2 separate regions of the Homo sapiens genome follow, and region 1 is linked to region 2. The links come from fine-mapping of genetic effects on plasma protein levels. A gene starts in region 2. The other region holds a variant in brackets. All regions are shown on one strand. Distances are between the middles of the regions.

The links. PIP is the chance, under the fine-mapping model, that this variant and not a neighbour inherited with it causes the effect. Sun 2018 read protein levels with aptamers (SomaScan).
Region 1: its variant is fine-mapped to the plasma level of the POFUT1 protein (Sun 2018, PIP 0.95).

The regions. Positions count from the first base shown.
Region 1 is chr20:32,269,908-32,278,235 of GRCh38, forward strand. It overlaps KIF3B (kinesin family member 3B), which reads left to right and starts at 7,744. Exons shown (of 9, transcript NM_004798.4): 1 at 7,744-7,858. LOC124904885 (a long non-coding RNA gene) reads right to left here and starts at 7,636. Exons shown (of 2, transcript XR_007067561.1): 1 at 7,397-7,636; 2 at 5,512-5,735. RefSeq lists enhancers at 455-986, 7,500-7,549, 7,596-8,106 and silencers at 7,760-7,919, 7,940-8,119. The variant CTTTTTTTT/C (reference allele first, on the strand shown) is at 5,141.
Region 2 is chr20:32,203,894-32,212,221 of GRCh38, forward strand. It overlaps POFUT1 (protein O-fucosyltransferase 1), which reads left to right and starts at 3,987. Exons shown (of 7, transcript NM_015352.2): 1 at 3,987-4,172; 2 at 6,178-6,299. The coding sequence starts at 4,049. PLAGL2 (PLAG1 like zinc finger 2) reads right to left here and starts at 3,850. Exons shown (of 3, transcript NM_002657.3): 1 at 3,748-3,850. RefSeq lists enhancers at 1,856-1,905, 3,821-4,734, 4,197-4,326 and a silencer at 3,637-4,056.

The DNA.
Region 1 (8,328 bases), 66 kb after region 2:
GAATTACCTCGCCTGTCAAATACATGTTTTTAAATAAGTGTACTGCGTGCAGTGCACCAGCCACTGTGCTAAGCACAGAGGATACAAATAAGTAACATAAAACCCGGTCCTGGGACCTAGGTGGTAGTTTTGGTCTGTCAAGGGATTTTATGACCTCCTCCTGGCTCTAAGACTTTAATATCACTGTTTTCTTGGCCAGGCACAGTGGCTCACGCCTGCAATCCCAGCATTTTGGGAGGCCGAGGCAGGTGGATCATTTGAGGTCAAGGAGTTCGAGACCAGGCTGACCACCATGGTGAAACCCCATCTCTACTAAAAATACAAAAAAAAAAAAAAAATTAGCTGGCCATGGTGGCACATGCCTGTAATCTCAGCTACTAGGGAGGCTGGGGCAGGAGAATCGCTTGAACTCGGGAGACGGAGGTTGCAGTGAGCCGAGACCATGCCACTGCACTCCAGCCTAGGCGAAAGAGCAAGACTGTGTCTCAAAAAAATAAAAAAAAAAAGAGTATTGTTTTCTTTATTTCAGTATTACTATGTATGGGCCTTACAAATGGGAAAGCATTTCACACCCATTCCCTGGGTAAACCCTCACAGCAGCCCTGAGGGAAGCAGGCAGGGAAACGAGGTCCTGAGGGTGAACTCACTTGCCCAAGATCACACAGCCAGTTAAGTGCCTGAGGAGGAAGCAATTAGCAGCCAACTCCTGTCTGGCTTTCTTCAGAAAACATCAAAGATGTGAATTTAGAAGCCATTAGCTTGATCCTCAGCCCTTAGAGCCTCCCTGAGGTCCCAGAGTTCCATCCATTCTGAACCTGGGCACTCCGCCAAGTGAGAAGCATCAAGCACAGCTCAGGTGCTTGGCTTCAGTCCAAGCCCTACATCTTGTTTCTTCCTGAAAGGGGCGCTGGGATGTCACCTCCTTGCATTCTAATAAATAGTTCCCTTTGCAGTCTTTTTATACAACCCCTCTTCAGCCCTCCTCCCCAAATGGTATTAAATTTCCAGGAATACTGAACTCTCTCACCAGCATGACTTCTCACATTTACAGTGATTGCTTTGCTGGAGGGCACCATGACTCCACTGATAAAGAAAGGAAAGACAGCCACCATTCATGGAGAACGTACTAAGTGCATCTTTTTTTTTTTTTTTTTTTTTTTTTTTTTTTTTTTTTTTTTTGAGACAGAATCTTGCTCTGTTGCCCAGGCTGGAGTGCAGTGGTGTGATCTCAGCTGATTGCAGCCTCAACTTCCTGGGCTCAAGCAATCCTCCCATATCAACCTTCTGAGTAGCTGGGGCTACAGGTGTGCACCACCATGACCGGCTAATTTTTGTATTTTTTGTAGACACAGGGTTTTGCCATGTTGCCCAGGCTGATCTTAAACATCTAAGCTTAAGCAGTCCACCGGCCTTGGCCTCCCTAATTACAGGCGTGAGCCACTGTGCCCAGCCCCAGACCATATTTTAGTTAATCCTCACAACAAACCTAAGCAGTTGCATTTCTAGCTCCACTTTGCATATGAGAAATGTGAGTCCCAGAGAGGTCAAGTGATGTGCACTGGGTCACTCAGCTAACACATAAGGAATGGAGCTGGGATTCAAACCTTTGACTGTCTGGACCCCGCAGTCCATGCTTGTCATTTTCATAGCTCAGAGATGCACTGTCCAATGTGATAACCACTAGCTGCATGTGGCTGCTTAGGCATAAATTAATTAAAATTAAATAAATACAATTCAGTTTTTCAGTAGCACTAGACTCATTTCAAGTGCTCAATAGCCACATGTGGCTGTTGGCTGCCTTATTGGACAGCACAGATATAGAACATGTCCACCACGGTGGAAAGATCTGTTGGACAGCGCTGCTCTCAAATGTGAGAGAAGAAAGAAAACATCGTGATTTTACCCTTGCATGGGGAGCCAGGCCATCTGCCACTTGTCAGCTTTGTAGAGAGTTCATCGGAAGTTATTTTTCCTGGATGAGATCATAATAAAACCATCCATGGGTGTCTGGGCTATGTTTTACCTTTCTCCTGGTTTGGCCTCCATTCATCCCCATCCATGATAGATGCAAGCATGCCCTTTCCCACACTCCCCTGCTGCCACCCAGTCGCCAGGTATCTAGTGCCTTTCTCTGTCATACAGGATTTGGGTTATCTTAGTCACTAAAGTGGGGCATCCTCACAGGACAACTCAGATGGAGACTGAGCAAAATTTTATAACACAGTGGGCTTAATTCCAGCTGGGTGGTCCCTGGGCGACATGCCTGCCACTGGGGAGGAGGGTCCTCACTGACTGACGTTGAGGAGGAGGGCTAACGGAGTTTCTTGGCAAAGGGGATGTCTGGTTATAAAGGGATTCTTCCCCCCGCTTAGCAACAGAACCCCCTCCCTATGTCTGGGGACTCCTTACTTTGTGAACGGAAGGCAGTCTTCTTCCTACCATAGAAGCCAAAAGGTCAGATGTTTGTCTTTACAGCTTCCACTGCAGGTAGGAGATGGGCATGTGATCAAGGATCAACCAATTAAGGCTTGGGTTATAGAGGTCGAGACTGTGGGGAATCCTTATGGAGAGGGAAGGTGAGAATGGTCTTGAGACAGTGCCCATGGCCAGGTAGCCATGGTGAAAGCAGGGCAACTAGTGTTCTCACCATACAAGTCCAGTAGTACATGGTCCCACGTGGCCTCGCCTTTCTTATTAGTGGCCACTTCTAGAAACTTCCTGGTGATTTTGTGGCCTTCCTACTACCCTGCTAATAAATTCCTTTTCTGCTACCATCAGAATTGGTTTCTATTATTTATGATATCTATTATTATGATAAACTGACACAATGGTGCTCGCTGGAATTAGATCATTTCTAGGCTAGAGTTTGCTCTTGGGGAGGTAGGAAGGAGGATCTCTGCTCTGGTCCATGTGATCTCTCCAGGACCCTTTTTTTCCAGCCCCACTGGCCTCCTTCCTCTTTTTGCATCCTCACCATCTCTCCCCTTCATTGAACTGAGCAAATCTCCAGAATTGAGAGGTTTGGAAGCCCTACTCTGACTTTTCAAAACTTCTTTCATTCCCTGAGTCTCCTCCCCAAGATTCTGGGGCTCAGAAAGTCCTTTCTCTATTTTTCTACTGAAATAACTCTTTTCTGAGCAATAAATACCTCACAGTCCAGGTTAGATGGAAAAGAGGACACAGTATGGAAAGGAAATGCCAGGAGTGGAAACATACTTGGTAATATAGAAGTTACCCCATCATACTAGGGTGACCACTCATCCTAGTTTGCCTGGACTAAGGAGTTTCTTGGGACATGGAACTTTTGGTGCTAAAACAGGGACAGACCTGTGCAAACTAGAACAAGTTAGTCACCCTACAACTGTACAGCTACTACTACTAATCCCACTTCAATACACAGCTTTATTCAGCTTGCTAAGGACAGAATCAAGACCAGACCGTCATCAACAATGCCTTACCAAAGTTCTTTTTTCGGCCAGGTGCAGTGAGTGGGTCATGCCTGCAATCCCAGCACTTTGGGAGGCTGAGGCAGGTGGATCACTTGAGGTCAGGAATTCGAGACCAGCCTGGTCAACATGGCGAAACCCTGCCTCTACTGAAAAATACAAAAATGAGCCAGGCATGGTGGCACATGTCTGTAATCCCAGCTACTCAGGAGGCTGAGGCATGAGAATCACTTAAACCCGGGAGGTAGAGGTTGCAGTGAGCTGAGATTGCGCCACAGCACTCCAGCCTGGGCAACAGAGCAATATTCTGTCTCAAAAAAAAAAAAAGTTGTTTTAATTTTCATTTCTTTAATATGAGTAAGCATAAGTATCTTTCCTTTTCCTATGTTTAAAAGCAATATTTTCTATTCCTTTTCTCTGAACTATCTGTTCATACCTTTTACCTACCTGTTTAAAAAAATTTTTAAATAGTTTTTGTACATATTTATGGGGTACATGTGCAATTTTGTTACATGCATAGAATGTGTAATGATAAAGTCAGGGTATTTAGGTTATCTATCACCCAAGTATTTATCATTTCTATGTGTTGGGTACATTTCAGGTCTTCTAGCTGTTTTGAAGAACACAATACATTTTTGTTAAATAGCAGTAAACACATCCAGTTAAACATAGTGGATTGATGATGCGTATTTATTTTTTTCTCCCTCGAACCCCATCTATATGGCAATAAGGAATAAAAAATGTATTAACCCAGAACATGAATAGGAATGAAAAGGAGACATTAGTGGCCCAGGGATTTCAGCAAGTTTTTAGAAAACAGGGACAGAAGGGGAAGTAGTAACTGACTTAACAGGGGGAGGAAGTTATGACCCAAATGTCTGCAGGGAATATTGATTTGATGACTAAAAGGTGAGCCCAGATTCTTCCATAGAAGAGATAGACACTAAAAATAAAGATATGGATGGAAATCTCCCACAGAGTAGAACAAAAGAGCCAAAAAGAGGGACAATAAGAGAAAAACAGAGAAAATTAGAAACTCAGTTTGGAAAGTATAACTTCTGACTAAGAGAAATTCCAGAAAGAGAAAAAAATGGAGGGGAGAGCCAAGTCTGGTGTCTCATTCCTGTAGTCCCAACAGTTTGGGAGGCCGAGGCAGGGGGATTGCTTGAGCCCAGGAGTTTGAGACCAGCTGGGCAACACAGTGAGACCCCATTTCTACAAAAAATAGAAAAATTACTCAGGCATGGTGGTATGCACCTGTAGTCCTAGCTACTCGGGAGGCTGAGGTGGCAGGATCACTTGAAGCTGCAGTGAGCCATGATCATGCCACTGCATTCCAGCCTGTGCAACATAGCACAACACTGTTTCAGGGGAAAAAAAAATAGGAGGGGAGAAAATTATCGAAAAAATAATACAAGAAAATTTCCTAGATTAGAGGGATATAAGTCTCCAGATTGAAAAGGCCCAGCTAACACAAGTGAGGAAAAGCCTCACTGAGGGGAGTCATCATCAAATACAACATTATGGATAAAGATGATAGCCTAAAAGTTTTCAAAGATTAAAAATAAAAAAAGAACAAGACACATATAAAGCAACAGGATTAAGAATGGCATTAGATGTCTTAAATCTGGATACTAGAAACAATAATGCAATGTTTTAAAAATTCTGAGAGAAATAATTTTCAGCCTAGATTT[CTTTTTTTT/C]TTTTTTTTTTGAAATGGAGGCTCCCTCTGTCGCTCAGGCTGGAGTGCAGTGGTGCAATCTTGGCTTACTGCAACCTCTGCCTCCTGGGTTCAAGTGATTATCCTGCCTCAGCCTCCCCGAGTAGCTGGGACTACAGGCATGTGCCACCATGCCCAGCTAATGTTTTTTTTGTATTTTTAGTAGAGACAAGGTTTCAGCATGTTGGCCAGGCTGGTCTCAAACACTTGACCTCAGGTGATCTGCCTGCCTCGACCTCCCAAAGTGCTGGGATTACAGGCATAAGACATGGCGCCTGGCCTTCAGCCTAGATTTCTATACCCTGCTAAACTATTAATCAAGTGTGAAAACAGTATAAATGCATATTTAGACATACAAGGACTAAATATATTTGCTTCTTTGCAACCTTTCTCAGGAATCTACAGAAAGATGTGCTGCACAGAGATGACAGAGTAAATCCACAATCTAGAAGTTTGAGACACAAGGTCCAGGGCACAGGGAATCCCAACCAGGTGTAGGATATAGGAAAGTTCAGTATGACAGCTGTGCAGTAGGCCTGGAGAGCACTGGTCCAGATCAGAGCTGAAGCCTTCAGGAGAAAAAAACAAAAGAGAACTCATGAACTTTTTTTTTTTTTTTAAGTTGTTGTTGTTTTTGTGAGATGGAGTTTTGCTCTTGTCACCCAAGCTAGAGTGCAATAGGGTTATTTCGGGTCACTGCAACCTCCACCTCCTAGGTTCAAGCAATTCTCCTGCCTCAGCCTCCAAAGTAGTGGGGATTACAGGTGCCTGCCACCACTCCTGGCTGATTTTTGTATTTTTAGTAGAGACGTGGTTTCTCCATGTTGGCCAGGCTGGTCTTGAACTCCTGACCTCAGGGTGATCTGCCTGCCTCAGCCTCCCAAGGTGCTGGGATTATGGGCATGAGCCACCATGCCTAGCCGAATTGTTATGTTACACATCTGGAAAAATCACTGCTGATTATTTTGTCTAATTTATTAACCACATAGGAAAAAATTAACAATATCTGCAAAGAAAGCTAATGAAAGGGGGGAAAAAATGAGGCAATTATTAGCTTCAGGAAATACCAAAAGAGGCTGGGTGCAGTCTCTTTTGGTATTTCCTTTATTATTTTATTTAAAAATAAACTTCTTCACTGTAGAGAAAGTGTAAATCAAATTATGTGGGAGTTTTAATGGGCCAGGCCTGAGAATAGCACACATCACATTTAATTGGCCAGAACTTGGTCTGAACTGTAAGGAAGGCTGGGAAATACTGTCTAGTTGTGTGTCCAGGAGCAGGAAGAAATAACGTTTTTGAGAGGAAGTAGCAATATCTGCCACAACAGGCAAAAAGTAGTTGTAGGCAGATGAAGAAGACCATCTCAGGTATTCATTTATTCAAGGAGCAAAACATATTTGTTCAGCAACTACTATTGACTAAGCTTGGTTCCAGGCATGGTGGATACAAGAGTGAACAAATAAAAGACTGCTCTTATGCAGTTTCTATTTAGTGGGGAACAGCAGGTGTAAGTTCCATGGGGGTTGGAACCTGCCCTTCTAGGCCAGTGTGGTTGGAATAGAGTTTTAACGAATTTTGCAGGAAGTAATAAGGACTTCATATTTGATTCTAAGAGCAATGAGACTCCATTAAATCGAGTATTAATCAGAAAGTGGCATGATCTGTTTTATTTATTTATTTATTTATTTATTTATTTTAATCTTTATATCTGAGACGGAGTTTCGCTGTTGTCGCCCAGGCTGGAGTGCAGTGGTGCCATCTCTCTCACTGCAACCCCTGCCTCCCGGGTTCAAGCGATTCTCCTGCCTCAGCCTCCCGAGTAGCTGGGACTACAGGCATGCGCCACCACGCCCGGCTAATTTTTTGTATTTTTATTAGAGACGGGGTTTCGCCATGTTGGCCAAGCTGGTCTCGAACTCCTGACCTCAGGTGATTCACCTGCCTCAGCCTCCCAAAGTGCTGGGATTACAGCGGGAGCCACCGCACCTGGCCGCATGATCTGTTTTAAATAATTACTCTGGCCACCTTATGGAAAATGGATTGTTCGGACAGAGCTGGACAAAAGAATGGAAACAGACCAGATATTTCAGGCAGGCTAGAGATGAGCGTGGCCTGGCCTTGCCTGGGGCGGTTGTGACTGACTGGATTGGGTGAAGGACAGGAAAGCTACAACAAGGGTGCCTATAGGTGTTCGTATTGAGTCACTGGGGGCACCCTAAATGGGAGTTACCTCAGTAGCAGTTTGAGACACCAGTCAGATAATGGATGTGAAAGCTTTTAGAAAGGTTGAACGGCGGCTGAAATCGCGTGTGTTCCATTTACAGATGGGAAACTGAGGCACGAGATACCAGAGGATGGAGTCAGGCCACGTTGTGCGCCACTCTCCCCGCTTAGGTGGGTGAGGAGACCGAGGTGTGTTGGGCCCCCGCTAAACACCAGCACCGACCTGAGCCCCGCCCAGACCCCTCCAGCCGGCTTTCCCTGTCCTCTGCTCGTGTGCCAATAAAGTTATTGAAATTGACACCGGTTGCTAAGGAAGTGGGTCGCCGAGCCAGGTTGCTAAGGAAGTGAGCGGCCACTGTCTCTCCCCATCCGGGGCAGCGGGGAATGGCTGAGCCAGGGGTTCGCCGCCCCCGCCGCCGCCGCCGCCGCCGCCGCCGCCGCCGCCGCCCGCTTTCGGCTCGGGCCTCAGGTGAGTCGGAGGGGCCGGGCGCCCACCGAGCAGGGCTAATCCTGTGGCCGCCTGGGGTTTTCCCTGCGACCTGCGCCCGCGCCTCTGCCTGGCTTTGCTGTCCCGCGAGCCGGAGCATCCTCTGCCCTGCCTCCTAGGCATCCTTTGGTAGTCCGGACGGCCTTGCCCCTCCTTCCCCTGGCAGGGTCGCGGCCCGACCCCCAGACACGGCCACCTTGGGTCGCAGCCCACCTGGGGGCCCTGAGGCGGTGGTCAGGGCCCCAGTTTGGGAGGAGGGCGGGGAAGCGAGAGCCTGGGGTCCGAACCTCGGCGCTGTGCTGGGCTTGCTGTGTGACCTTGGGCAAGTCTTTTCACCTCCCTGGCCTTAGCTGACCTGTTTATTCAATGGGGTCCTAACATTGCTGCTCAGAGTGGTAAAGATAATGAGAAGTGTATGTGAAAGTGCCCTAAATGGGGAGAGGGAGAATTCT
Region 2 (8,328 bases):
CTGCATTTTGCATGAATCACATGCTGGGGAGGGGTAGGTAGCACTAAAAACTAGTCCCACTTGAGCCTTCAAGTCATTATGGCATATGTGCCTGCTTCACTATAAACCTCAAAGGCCTGTGACGTCTGGCTTTCATTGTTTAAGTCCCCTCCTCCTTTGCAAGGGTGGAATTACCTGTTTGTAATACCAGCAATTACTATGCACCTTGGAATTGAGCAGAGAGTGTGCTCGAGTGTGCATGTTTAGATTGGAGGGAATTACCCCTACCTTCAAAGTCAAATTCTACTCCCCCTTCAATTTGAAATCATGCACCTCAGCCTCTGGAAAGTTGGGAATGGCAGCCAGAAGGAAACAAGTCACATCAATTTGGCTGATGTGAGAGAGGAGCCTAGCCCTGGAAACTCCACACAAACTCAGAAAGAGAACATTACGTCCCCACCTCCCACACGTCCACCTCATCTGTTCTCCTGAACAAGCACAAACAAGACACAATAGTTTAGTAGGCTGCTACTGAAAGAGTGAGTAATGGGCTTCTAGGAAAGAGGCTGGTGGTGGCTAAGGAGCTTGTACTGATAGAACCAAAGGAGGAAAGCAGCAGCCATGTGCTCACCTTGATCTGCTTTTAATGGGGCTATGTCTTCACAAAGAAAAGAGCCAACACCCTGATCCTACTCTCCTACACTTTTCAAAAGGCACAGGAAGTCCCTACCTACAGTCACCAGCAGCCTCTTGGATAACCAAAGCTGCTAGTGTTACCTAGGAACCCTTTTGGGGATCTAGTCTCTCTCTGCCCTTTGTCTGAAAACTCCTCTGATCCAGAAAGATTCCTGGGTTTGTCTTACATAAGCAGAAGGCCTGTTCCTTCAGACTTGTCCTTCCTCAGCAAAACTGTGAAAGAATTCTACTTCTCTTTCAAAGCTGCTCTTCTGGTCTCACATTTTAATCTTAACAACTATAGACTATAGAGAAGCTGACAGAACCTGTTTCCATAAAACAAACACAATCCTTCCCAGTTACTGGCACAACTCAGTATATTTTCAGCCTAAGATTCTTTCTAGTGCCTGATCTGAAAGGGGAAAGAACCTTGGACTTGCTATCAGAAGAGCTGCCACTTACTGGCTGGGAAACCATAGGCAGGTTACTTTATTTCTCTGAACCTCAGTTTCCTCAATTTCTAAAATACGGATTTATTTTCCTTACCTGTAAGATTCGTATAGAGGATTAAATGAAATAATACTCTTGAAAGTGGCTGATACAAAATGTGTGCTCTGAATACATGCAGTGCCTTCTCTGAGGTCTCGGCTGTGTCTGCCTCTTTTTCCGCATGAGGCCTGAATAGTACTTCTTTTTTTCCTCTTTAATGTTACTTCTCAGGCCTCAGAGTGAGTTTCCTTCCTTTCCCAACATCTCCCCCAGAATGCAGTCTTCCCCTTTTCCCTCACAACTAACCCTCGGCACATCCCCTTTAAAGAGCCCCTTACTTTACCTCCCTCCAGGCACCATCTCCTGGGCCAGAGTTCTCTCTTAAGCAGAGAGCCACTTTCCTATACTCTCTTGTATTATTAGGGCTCCATATCCCAAACAGGAATGCTTGCTAAAAACTCTGTATGGTCCTCTTTGAAAGCTGAAACTGAGACATATTTCTCCCCAGTCTGTCCGTCCCCTGTTATGGGCCATGATGCCTGCTGCTCTCTGATGAAACTATAGTTTTTATGGTGTTACATCATCTCTATAGAAACTGCGTTCTTTCTCCATTATTAGCCTGTTTCCTCATCTGTAAAGCTAAAAATACTTACCTCACAGGCTTGCTGTAAGGATTATTTTAGTGAGGTATGCAAAGGGCTCAGCACAGAGCTTGGCCTGCTAGAAGTACCCAACAAAAGAGAGCTATTATCTTTGTCTTTGTATTGAGTTGCATGTTTCCACCTTCTGCTGCCACACTCAAATTCTCCTCACTCCCCCCTAAAAAACAGTTGAGAGATAACACCCCTGCACAAGGAAAGGGTTAATCTTTGAGTGTTCTTAACTAAAGAGACCCACAGAGGATTAACAGCTCCACTTCAGTGACTACCCTAAAATAGCTTTTATCCTCCTGCCCAAGAGTTACTTGGGGATCTGAAGAACTCAATTCAACACCTGCCGGAGGAAATAGACCCAGAACGTTCCTTGGGATAGAATCTTCCCTTAAGCAGAACCCAAAATAGCAACTGGGAAATTATAAATAGACTTAGAGGAAAGAAAAAACAAAACAAAACAAAACAAAAAACAGATCCTGATCTCAGAACCAGAAACAAATCCTAAAACACACTGGTTGGCTGGAAAACAGTGAGAAGAGGGGAAATGGGAATGCTGTCGCCCCCTTCCCCCCCGCCCACTCCAGAGTGGTGGGAGAATTAAATTACAGGGAGGCTGGAGAGTCTCAATGACTTGCACCATTCCAAGAAACATCAAACAGGATTAACAGGGGTTGGATTTACTCTCAGGCTGCTAATTCTTCTGTCAGTGTAGATGGGCCCTCTTTGGAGTCTCTTTGATTCACTATTTCCTCAGATTCCTGCTGCCTCCCACTCCTGGGGAGGCCTTGAACAAATGGCTGCAACTCATCACAACCCCATTTTCATGGGGAGAAAACGTGATTCGACACCCCCGCTCCCAATCTGGTGGCCTCACCTTAGGAGAGAAAGGTTAGAAACCCAAGACCAGACTCTACACACAGTCCCATGGCTGACAGGTGGAAAAACACACAAGCCAGGAGACAGGCTAAGCTTGCAGGTGAAAGCACCGATTCCCCCACACAGGTGTCCCCATATCCTCCACCTAACAGGCCCCTTTCTCCCCACCAAGGTGGGCCACAGCCTGGTCCCAGGCCAACTTTTAGATCACCCCACTGTGGTGTGGGAAAGGTTCAATTCCCCGAGCCTGGGAGAGATGGGAGTGGATGAGGGCTGGAGAAGCAAAGGAAATCCAGGGAGAAGTCTGGAGGGAGTCTCTGGGATGGGAAGGAAGAGCGAGGATGGGAAGGAATCATGAGCAACTTTCCTGGGTCTCTAAGGGATCCCCACAAGAATGAAATGGGGGATTATAAGGGCTGGAAGGCTGGGGGGATGGGGATAGTCAGAAGTGTATCCTCTGAATTTCAAGAGGGTCTCAAAATGGGTAACGGGATGGAAGATGTCGAAAGCCTGGGAGTATGGCCACTGAGGAGGGAACTACAGGTGGGGCTTATTCGACTTCTCCAGACCCAGATATTTGAGGGAAGCCTCAAAGGGAGTTATGTAAGTCTGGAAAATGAAACAGGGTACAGAGCGGGCTATCTGGAGCAGGAAAGGGGGTTATGTGGGTCTGGGTAGGCGTGTCGGAGGGAGGGAGCAGGTGCAGCTTATCTGCGTCCCCCAGACCCGGGTCCCTGGTAAGGTCAGCAGCGCCTTATCTGGGTCTCCAGGGAGCCTAGGGGTCGGGAATGGGGGACCCTCAGGACTGCGTCTCCAGGTCTCGGAAGGGAGGGGACCGGTGGCTTCCTCGGGTCCCCCAGACACAGGTATGGGGTCCAGGGAGAGTTTTCGTCACCCCAGGGCCTATCTGGGGCCGGGTTGGCGCAGACCGGGCCCCGGGTCGGGGGTGTGGGCGACCGCGCTGAGGGGCCCGAGATGAGGCGCGCCGCCGCTCCGGGTACAGGGCGCGCGGACGCAGCGAGACGGCCTCCCGCCCCTCTCCCCGCCGTCCCCTGGGGCCCTCGCCGGCACTCACCGCGCTCGGGGCCCCACGCTGCGGGCCGGGCCGCGCTCGGGCTCCGCCAGGCCCCCTCAGGCCCCGGTAGTGGCGGCGGTCGGGCCATTGTGCGGTGCATTGTGGGAGCCGCGCGAGCGGGCGCTCGGGTCGTGGAGGGGGCGGTGCCGCGGGATCTCTATGGTCCCGCCCGCCCGCGGGCTAGAGCGGCCGGGGCGGTGCGCGGGCGGCGCGCAGGGACCGCTGGGAGCGGGGCGGGCGCTCGCGTCCCTCCTTCCCTCCCCGACTGTGCGCCGCGGCTGGCTCGGGTTCCCGGGCCGACATGGGCGCCGCCGCGTGGGCACGGCCGCTGAGCGTGTCTTTCCTGCTGCTGCTTCTGCCGCTCCCGGGGATGCCTGCGGGCTCCTGGGACCCGGCCGGTTACCTGCTCTACTGCCCCTGCATGGGTAAGGCCTCCCAAGCCCTCTGCTCAGATGGAGAAACTGAGGCCGGGAGAGGAAAAGCCACTCCTCAGATGCGCCCAGAGACACCTTCACAGGTCCAGGAGAGAACCTCAGAGCGGGACGGGGCATGCTCTTCTCCTCTCTGCCTTAGTTGCAAGGGCACAGAGGGGCCAACGTGTCCAACTTTCCATTTGACAGATGAGAAAACTGAGGCTGGGAGAGGTTACGTGACTTGCTTGAGGTCTAAGCCAGTCCAGGGTCCAGTAAATGGAGTTAGTGGGGCAGGACTTGATGTCACTGACCCACGCTGGCTCCTGGTGATTTTTCATTGATTCAGCAAATATTTATGGGGCACCTATTCTGTGCCGGGCCCTGTTCTCTGTACTGGGAATACCGCAGTGAATAAGATAAACTCCGTGTCCTTGTAGAGCCTTCATTTTAGTTGGGGAAGACAAACAATTGAGAATAAGTAGGCCAGGCGCGGTGGCTCACTTCTGTAATCCCACCACTTTGAGAGACCGAGGCAGGATCACTTGAAGCCAGGAGCTCGAGATCAGCCTAGGCAACATAGTGAAAATCCAATCTCAAAAAAAAAAAAAAAAAAAAAAAGCAGAGCGTGGTATCGTGTGCTTGTAGTCCCTTGGGAGTTATCTGGGCGGCTACTTGGGAGGCTGAGGTGGGAGGATCTCTTGAGCCGAGGAATTCGAGGCTGCAGTGAGCTCTGATCGTGCCACCGCACTGCCAGCCTGGGTGACAGAGTGAGACCCTGTCTCGAAACAAGCAAACCCAAAAAGGGGTAAACATAAAACAATAAATACATAGTTTCATAGAGGATGATGAATACTAAGGGAAAATAAAGAGAGCAGGGTAGGGGAGAATCTAAAGACCATGCCAGGTGCACAGTTGAAATGGGTATGGTGGATCATCATTGTGGAAGTGGATGATCTTAAGGCCCCCAGTGGCTTCCAGACTCCTGACCATGACTTTCAGGGCCCTGAATGATGTGGCCTCCACTGGCCATCTCCACAACTCCCTTCTCTGCTGATCCTCCAGCTGCAGCCACACTTAACTCCTTTGCGTTCCTCACACATGCTCAGGTCTTCCAGTCTGCACTGCTGCAGGTGGCGGTCCCTATGCCTGGAATCCTCTCCTCCATTTCTGCCTGACCAGCTGTTTCCCATCCTTTAGATCTCAGCCTAAATGTCACCAGAAAGGATTTCACTGACCTCTACCCAAGTAATCTCCTCATTACCCTATCACCAAACTTTTTTCATCTCTTTCTGGCAATTATCAACATTTTTCATGTATTTGTTTACATGTTTAGTGTCTCTGCAGTGAACTGTGAGTGCCTTAGGGGCAGAGGCCTTGTCCTTCTTGTTCATTCCTGTATCCCAGCACCTAGCACAGAGTCTGGCACATTGTGGCCTCTCAATCATATTTGTGAAATGAATGAACAGGTGCCATGCTGGGATTAAGAAAAGGAATCACACAGGGTCCTTGCTTCTGAGGCATTCACAGGCTGAGGAATCAGCCAGTACGAAGGCCAGGAAGTGAGCAAAGATACTTGAGGAAAATTGAAGAACTGAAGTAGCTCAGAGCCAAGGTGGGAGGTAAAGGAGGGAGAGTGAGTATGGCAGGGGATTGGTGAAAGGAGCCCAGTGAATGAGGCATTCGAGTTGCCCGTCCATGTGCAGGTGAATGGAGATAGAGGTAGAAGCTCTTCTGGCTGAGGGACAGCAAGATCAGAGGCATTGGGTGGGGATGGGAATTGTAGAGCATGTTGGGGAAACAGCAAGAAACCTGGAGTGGCGGAAGCAGTTGTTGCAGGACCTGAAGAGCCTTGGATATCAGACCCAAGAGTCCAGACTTGTTCTTATGCTGCCAGCTCCCCTAGTTCTCCTTGGTATCCCTGACTTTCTACCCCTGGCTCCACAACCTTTCTGAGCCCTGCATGCTCTATGCCCTCCATGCCCCAGGCCTCACCTCACCCGCAATGTACCATTTCCAGGGCGCTTTGGGAACCAGGCCGATCACTTCTTGGGCTCTCTGGCATTTGCAAAGCTGCTAAACCGTACCTTGGCTGTCCCTCCTTGGATTGAGTACCAGCATCACAAGCCTCCTTTCACCAACGTGAGTACTTCCCACTGACCTTGGCCTTTCTCCGCCCTTTCTCAGTCTTGCTTACTTACACTTAACCCTCAAGTCCTCTGGGCTTTACCTCCCACTCCTCTGAGATTTCCCTACCTCCAGCCAGAACTGTCTTCACTGCAATAACAATGCCTAACATTTATTTATCCAGCACCTGTTGTGTGCGGCTGCATGAGAATTAGCTCATTTCACCCTCATCACTTGCCTGTGAGGAAACCGGGGTTTACAGAGGTTAGGTAACTTGCCCAAGATCACACAGCCTGTGAGTAGGAGAGCTGGAATTCAAAGCTATCTTTGTCTGACTCCAGAGCCTGTGACTTGAACCTAAAGCCTCCATTTCCTTCCCTGATTGGTCCTACCCTCTGTGCATTCCATTGGCCAAGGGTGGCAGATGCTATTATCAATTTTAAAGGAGACATGCAGGCACAGGTTATTTAATGACATGTCCAAGGCCACAACCCAGGTAGTCTGGCTTCAGTGCTGCCTCTCACCCCATCAAGGGGCTCCCTTGTCATGCGATGCTCACCGGCCCCCAGTTCCTTGCTTATTCTTTGTGTCTTCCAGTGACCTTGTGTCGTTGTTCATATTGTATCTCCCGGAGCCTGGCAGTAGGAACTTAATTAGTATTTGATGAATTGACTTAATAATTTTCCAATAGACATCAGAAATAATACTTAGTGTGAACAAAACACTTAATTTCATTCTTACAACCTTTTCTCTGCATAGATTTTACTTTTTCCTTTGCATGCCAGTATTTACAGAGGTTTTGAGCAGCAGTCAAAAGCCAGAGTACCAGAGATCATAGTCTGACTTGGGTTCTTACTAGTTGCATGGCCTGGACAGGGTACTTTACCTCTTTGTGCCTCAGTGTCCTCATTTTAAAAATAAGCTGGTAATGATTCTTGTTACCCTCTTGTGGTAAGGACTGAATGTGTCAGTGGCAGTAACACGCCTTCAGTGTTGTCATATGCCGCCTCCCTCTTAGAATCAACTGAGCTTATCAACGTACAGATCCTAGAGTCCTCAGTTAATGGAAACCATTGATGTTCTGATAATTTCGCACTCACTATTTTTTTTTTTTTGAGATGGAGTCTTGCTCTCTTGCCAGGCTGGAGTGCAGTGGCACGATCTCAGCTCACTGCAACTTCTGCCTCCCGGGTTCAAGCGATTCTCCTGCCTCAGCCTCCTGATTAACTGGGACTACAGGCGCACCACCACGCCCAGCTAATTTTTGTATTTTTAGTAGAGACAGGGTTTCACCATGTTGGCCAGGATGGTGTCAATCTCTTGACCTCATGATGTGCCTGCCTTGGCCTCCCAAAGTGCTGGGATTATAGGCATAAGCCACTGCGCCTGGCCTCGCACTCACTATTACAGTGTAGACATTGCCCATCCATCTCCCTCTGGCTTGCTTGCCTCTGTCTCCTTGCCTTCTCAGCCAGTTGTCTTTCCAAGTCCCCACTTCCTTGCTTTCTGTGGCTTACTAACCTGCTCCAACAAGGCTCTTCTTCGCCACTGTTAGCATTCTCACTGAGGTCACCAGTGACCTCCAAATTGGCAGGGGTTATTTCCCAGTCTTTCTCTCACCTGACCTCCCACTGGCACTTGACCCTGCAAGCTTCTCCTTCCTGAACTTCCCTGTTCCAAGACACCACCTGTCCCTGCTACAATCTAACCTCTCAGCATTTTCCTCTTTCCACTGTATCAGGGGCTCCTTTCTCTCCACCCACTGTTTAGATGTTAGTGTTTCTCCTCTTTCTGTTTGCTTACTAGCTATGTGACCTCAGATGTTATCTAGATTCTGTATGCTTGGGTTTCTTCATAAGTAACCTGGAGATGGTTATATTCCTACCTCAGGATTAAATGTGCAAATCTATGTAAAGTGATGAGTGCAGTACCTAGCACTGTGTCAACATGCAATAAATATTAGTTGCTATTATTACCATTACTTGCTTTGCTATAAATATCTGTTGACTCCTGTGGCTTTTACTCTTCTCCGTGTACCTCCCAA